Linked DNA regions of Homo sapiens: region 1 is linked to region 2. The links come from fine-mapping of genetic effects on gene expression. A gene starts in region 2. The other region holds a variant in brackets. All regions are shown on one strand. Distances are between the middles of the regions.

Evidence for each region.
Region 1: its variant is fine-mapped to the expression of RANGAP1 in whole blood (TOPMed, PIP above 0.99).

Annotation. Positions count from the first base shown.
Region 1 is chr22:41,244,107-41,247,015 of GRCh38, forward strand. It overlaps RANGAP1 (Ran GTPase activating protein 1), which reads right to left. Exons shown (of 16, transcript NM_002883.4): 16 at 673-2,566. The coding sequence ends at 2,497. Among named protein-coding and RNA genes, the nearest start is that of CHADL, 4.6 kb to the left of the region's middle. The variant C/T (reference allele first, on the strand shown) is at 1,460.
Region 2 is chr22:41,284,667-41,287,575 of GRCh38, forward strand. RANGAP1 (Ran GTPase activating protein 1) reads right to left here and starts at 1,521. Exons shown (of 16, transcript NM_002883.4): 1 at 1,320-1,521. RefSeq lists enhancers at 1,224-1,293, 1,724-1,943, 1,974-2,043, 2,364-2,413.

The sequences.
Region 1 (2,909 bases), 41 kb before region 2:
CTGCAGTGAGCCGAGATAGAAGCTGGGCAACATGAGACCCTGTTTGAAAAAAATTAAAGTTATCCCCCCCACCCATATATATATACAGAGAGAGTTTAGGCAATTATTTTCTCCCTGTCTGTAAGTTGCCTTTGTACTCCTTAATGAGTATTTTGATAAACAGAAACCTGTTCTCACTGCTACATCATTTCCATTGTGTGAACATCCCACGATAATGGCAAAGGAGGTTAAATACAGCTTAATTTATTCATCTTTTCCTCACTCCTAAGGCCTTGAAGATACTCACTTACACTATCTCCTACAAGCTCTCTCTCTCTTTTTTGAGACAGGGTCTCGCTGTCAGTCATGCTGGAGTGCAGTGGCACGATCACGGCTTGCTGCAGCATCCACTTCTTGGGCTCAGGTGATCCTCCCACCTCAGGTTCCCAAGTAGCTGAGACTACAGGCATGCATCACCACACCCAGCTCATTTTTGTATTTTTAGTAGAGACAGGGTTTTGCCATGTTGGCCAGGCCAGTCTTGAATTCCTGGGCTCAAGTGATCTGCCCGCCTCGTCCTCCCAAAGTGCTAGGATTACTACAGGCGTGAGCCACCACACCCGGGTGAAGCTCTATAGTTTTGCTTAATTTTTAAAACATTAACTGAGGTAAAATATATTAATACATGAAATCTATCATTTTAACCATTTTTATGTGTACAATTCAGTGCATTAAGTACATTCACAATGTTATGCAACCATCACCACTCTCCATTTCCAGAACATCTTCATCATCCCAGAGAATCTGTTTGCAGCCTCACTCCCTATTCCACCCTTCCCCTAGCCCTGGCAACCTCTACCTTCTTGTCTCTGAATTTGCTTATTCTAGATGCCTCATCTAAATGGAATCATATTTGTCCTTTTGTGTCTGGCTTATTTCATTTAACATGTTTTCAAAGTTCATCCACGTTGTAGCTGGCATCAGAACTTAATGCCAGCCCCACACCCACCCCCTACCGTATCAACTCACACAGAAGACAGGGGACAGGGCCAGCAGTATCCTCTGCCACCTGGTCACCTACGTGGCCGACTGCCAATGAGAAAATATTGCCCTCTAAGAAACCTTGGAGGGACTTCTTGGAGGCCGTTTGTGGGGGACATGGGCTCCCAAAGCACATACATGGTGTAGGGTAGGAGGTAAGGAAGGTTGGCTGGGCTGTCCTCACATATGTGGCAGTGGAGCAAAGGATCCCAAGGGAGGTGGCTTCCATAGTGAAGGAGCAACGCAGAAGCCAAGCGAGCTGCAGCCCAAAGGCAGGGTGCTGGGTGAGGTGTGGCCAGGCAGGAAAATGGGCCCCCACTCAGGACTGCCACTTCCCAGGTAGTGGCCTGAGGCCGAGGCCGGGCCCTTCTGCAGGGCTGACTGCCCCACAGACTGCTGCGGGGCCGCATGCTCTGCCGAGGTGGGACTCCACGTACAA[C/T]GGCCCCCGAGACTATCCCGCTTTCAGTGAGAGTTTCTGAGTCTCTGAAGCTGCCACACGACTTTATTTGTGAAGCCCCCGGGCACAGCCCAGACACACACAGAGCACAAAGGGGAAAGCATGGGGCAGTCACGGGTGCTCAGGGAGGTCATACAGCATCTGCCCAGTCCAGACCCTACCGCTCCCCTGCCCCAGGAGGTCCTTTAAGAGCAGCGTCCAGATGCAGCTCGGACATTGGGGACCCTGCCTCTCCCTCCCCAGACTGGAGAACAGCTTTGGGTTGTCAACACTCCCCCTCCAGCCAGGCCAGTCACAGACGACATCTCAGCAGCCAGGAGAAGGCCCACTAGGTCCGGGGCCAGCGCAGTCCCAGCAGCTCCTGCTCCTGGACAATCTGGTGTCTGCCTGTCCACACGGTGTGGGGCCCAGGGTTGCCCTCTGCCAACAACCCCACGATCCGACCCCCACAGTCCCACCCATGGCATTCTCTGCTCTTCAGGCTGAGCGGTCAGCACAGTGGTATGGATGGTAGGGGTGACAGCTGCCGCAGGACCAGGGCTTGGTGACGAGAAGCAGCCCCAGGCAGGGCAGGAAACAACCCAATCACAACACAGAGGGGAAGGACAGCACGCGGGCAACTCCCTGGGTTCTGGCTCCGCCAGGGAGCCGGGCCGGAAGGCAGGTGGGTGGGGACGGCCATCAGGGCCCAGGCGGAGATCAGCAGAGCGCCCTCAGGTGGAGGTGAGTTTAATGGCGGAGCAGCTCACAGCCCTTTCCCCTGGGGGCCAACTCCCCACAACAGAGCAGGGCTGGGCCAGCAGAAGACGTTAAAACCCAAATCCCGACAGGAGGCACAGACCTGCACATGCGCCACACCCACACACATACTCAGGGGACTGACAGGACACATGGGACACAGACCCGCCCTGCCTGTGGCCAGAGTCCTGTCCAAGGCAATGGCGTAGGCTGCGCCTCAGTTCATCCGAGTCCCTCCCCAGCTCACTGGTCCAGGCCAAGGGATGGGAGAGGCTTTGAGTCTAGACCTTGTACAGCGTCTGCAGCAGACTGTGGCGGGCGAAGGAGCAGGATTCCAGGGCGCTGTTGGGCCTGCGGGGAAAGAGGGGTCAGCAGGTCGGTGGATGCCTCTTGGCCTGTTTTCCAAGTGTGGGGGCCATTTTGGTGCCAGACTCATTTTTGTTAATTTGCACAACGACTCAGCAAGAGAGACATTAGCCCTCTGCCTTCTGCACACCGTGGGTGGGGATGGGAGGTGCGAGAGGCTCAGAGAGCCAGGCACCCAACGCCACACAGCCCAGAGCTGGCCAGAATGAAGGCCCCCTCAGCCAGGCTCTCCAAGGGCCCTTCCAGCAGACATAGGCCAGGGAATCCTTACTGGCTGCCAGTGGCCACATAGGACTGGCCCACTAGAGTCCAATCTGGATCATAAGTA
Region 2 (2,909 bases):
TTAGAAACCAGCCTGGGCAGTATGCCGAAACCCTGTCTCCACTAAAAATACAAAAACTAGCTGGGTGTGGTGGCAGGTGCCTGCAGTCCCAGCTACCTGGGATGTAAGGTGGGAGGATCACTTGAGCCCCGTAGGTGGAGGCTACAGTGAGCTGAGATCTTGCTGCTGTACTTCTGGAGACCCTGTTTCAAAAAATAAATTAACCAGAAACCAGCCCAGTGCAATAACTCACACCTGTAATTCCAACATTTTGGGAGGCTAGGCGGGAAGATCACTTTAGACCAGGGTTCGAGACAAGCCTGGGCAACAGAATGAGACCCTGTCTCCACAGAAAAATTTAAAAATTAGCCAGGTGTGATGGCATCTGTAGTCCCCATGACTTGGGAGGTTGAGGTGGGAGGATCGCTTGAGCCCAGGAAGCCGACGCTGCAGTTCAGCGGTGATCGTTCCACTACACTCCAGCCTGGGTGACAGAAGGAGACCGTCTCTAAAAAGATAAAAAAATTTAAAGAAAAACCAACAAAAAAATTAACCTGAAACCCCAGCATCTCTTGCAGTTCTGAGATGGGACAATTTGAGGGTAAAAGGTGGTGGTGAAGCCTCCAGATAGAATAGGGACAGAACTTCTCAGCTGAACGGGGGCCCATTCCTCAGTCCAAGAGAGAGCGAGACAGAGATGCACCCCTCCACACTCACTTTATAAACCAAGAAACTGGAGCACAGAAACGTAAATTGATTTGTCCAAGGTCAGCAAAGGATCAGCGCCAGAGCAAAAGCAAAGGGCTAATAGAGAAACATCCTCTCCCCGCTCCGCAGCAACGTCAGAGACTTTCTGAGGTGAGATGCATGCTCCTGCAAAGCGTCAGCAGTGACTCACATCGATTCCAGGGACAGCGGCGCCAGCCCGGGGCCCCCGCGGGCGTGGGCCTGCTGGGAGGTGGCTCTGCGGGAGCGACGCGCGAATACAGGCCGCAAATGATAGGCGGGCGGCGCAGGAGCCCCATCTGGAATCCCCGGCGGACTCGCACCGCCTCCGGTTGACAACAATGCTAATATGAGACGCCACTGCTAGCAGCTGCAGGCTGAGCTGCTCTGGCGAGTCAGACGCCCTTTAAGCCTCAGTTTCCCCATTTGTGAAAGGAGCCAGCGCCGCTCAACAACCCCACTCCCACCGCCACCCCTGGGGCGCTCGGCCGTCGAAGGCTAAGTGAAGAAGGCCGAGGGGGCAGGCAGAAGGCGCACACGGGCGCCACGCCCTCCTCGCCCCGCACCCCTGTTCCAGGCAGGTGACGGGGAAAGGAAAGGGACCCTGACTCTACCGTAAACAGGCGGCGCCGCCGCGTGGGGGGAATCGAGCGCGCGCCTCCGCCCTCTGGGGCGGGGACGGATTTAGGGTCCGGGTCAGGCCGGGGTCGCCACCTCCGGATCCAGCGGTCCAGATGTCCAGCCGGCTAGTCTGTTAGCTCTCTCGAGCTCCCGGCCTCACGCGCTTCCAGCACCACCTGCTCTCCGCACCGCGGCGGATGATGGCGGAGGAGGAGGATTTTGAAAGCCGGCAGTTTCTTTGCTTCGATTTGATTTGTTCGAGGCCCCGGCCGGCTTGCCCTCGCCCCGCTCGCGCGGCCTCTCGGGTAGAGTAGTCCGGTTCCCCATCTGGGAGCGCGATGGGGCGCGCACCGCGAACTACCCGTCCCATGGCGCACCGCGCGCAGAGCGTCCTCCACCGCCCTCCTCTTCGCCCTCCCCTGGTGGCTTCTGGCTCTTTCTCGCAGAGACCGCAGGGAGGTGTTCAGCCGGGAGCGCCCAGAGACTACAATTCCCAGAATGCGTTGCACCCAGGTCCCTCAGCTCTTCCGGAAAGGTTTTGTTCGCGTAACTTTGTTGATAACAGGTACTGCTGGCTGCTGGGTCTCTTGGGCAAGACACAGGTATCCATTTCCCGAAAGAAAAGACTCTTTTCCGTCCCATGAAACTGAAAGGGCATTCGAAGGCTTCCACATAAATATGCACAAATTACCTGATAATTAAAAAGGGGAAATAGTAACTATCGTAGAGAAGCTCCGCAGACACCACTTGAACGGCCACGTTAACATCAACAGCAGGACAAGCTGACATTCATCGCACGCTTTCTGTGTGATGCACTGAGAAAAACACGGCGTCACCGTCCGGTCTATAATGCATGACCTTAGTCTAATCATGAGAAACCCAAGCTGAGGGACATGGTACAGAATAACTGATCTGTACCCTTCCGGAAATGTCTGTATTATGTAAGACAAAGAAAAACTGAGGAACTGTTGCCGATTACAGGAAACGAAAAAGACAACTGAATGCAAGACATGGTCCTGGATCGGATCCTGGGTGGGGATTGCTATAAAGGACAATACTGAAACAGCAAAACTTGACTATATTAGATAATAGTATTGTATCAATGTTAAATTTATTAATTTTGATTATGGTACAGGGTTATGTAAGAGACTGCCCTTGTTCTTGGAAAAAAATGCTGAAATAATTAGGGACAAAAAGGACATGATGTCTGCAACCTTTATGGTTAAAAGAAATATACCTATACATATACATAGAGAAAGCAGAGACACAAATGTGGCAAAATGTTAATCAGTTAATCTGGTTGAAGAATATGGGAGTTCTTTGAACATTTTTGCAACTTTTCTGTAGGTGTGAATTTAAGCATAAAAACACAAACAGCGTTTTTTTTTTGTTTTTTTTTTTTGAGATGGAGTTTCACTCTTGTTGCCCATCTTGGCCTCCCAAAGTGTTGGGATTATAGGCGAGAGAGTGTGAGACCAGCCTGGGCAACATGGTCAAACCCTGTCTCGACAAAAAATACAAAAATTAGTTGGACGTGATGGTGCAAGCCTGTAGTCTCAGCTAAGGGCCTGAGGCAGGAGGAT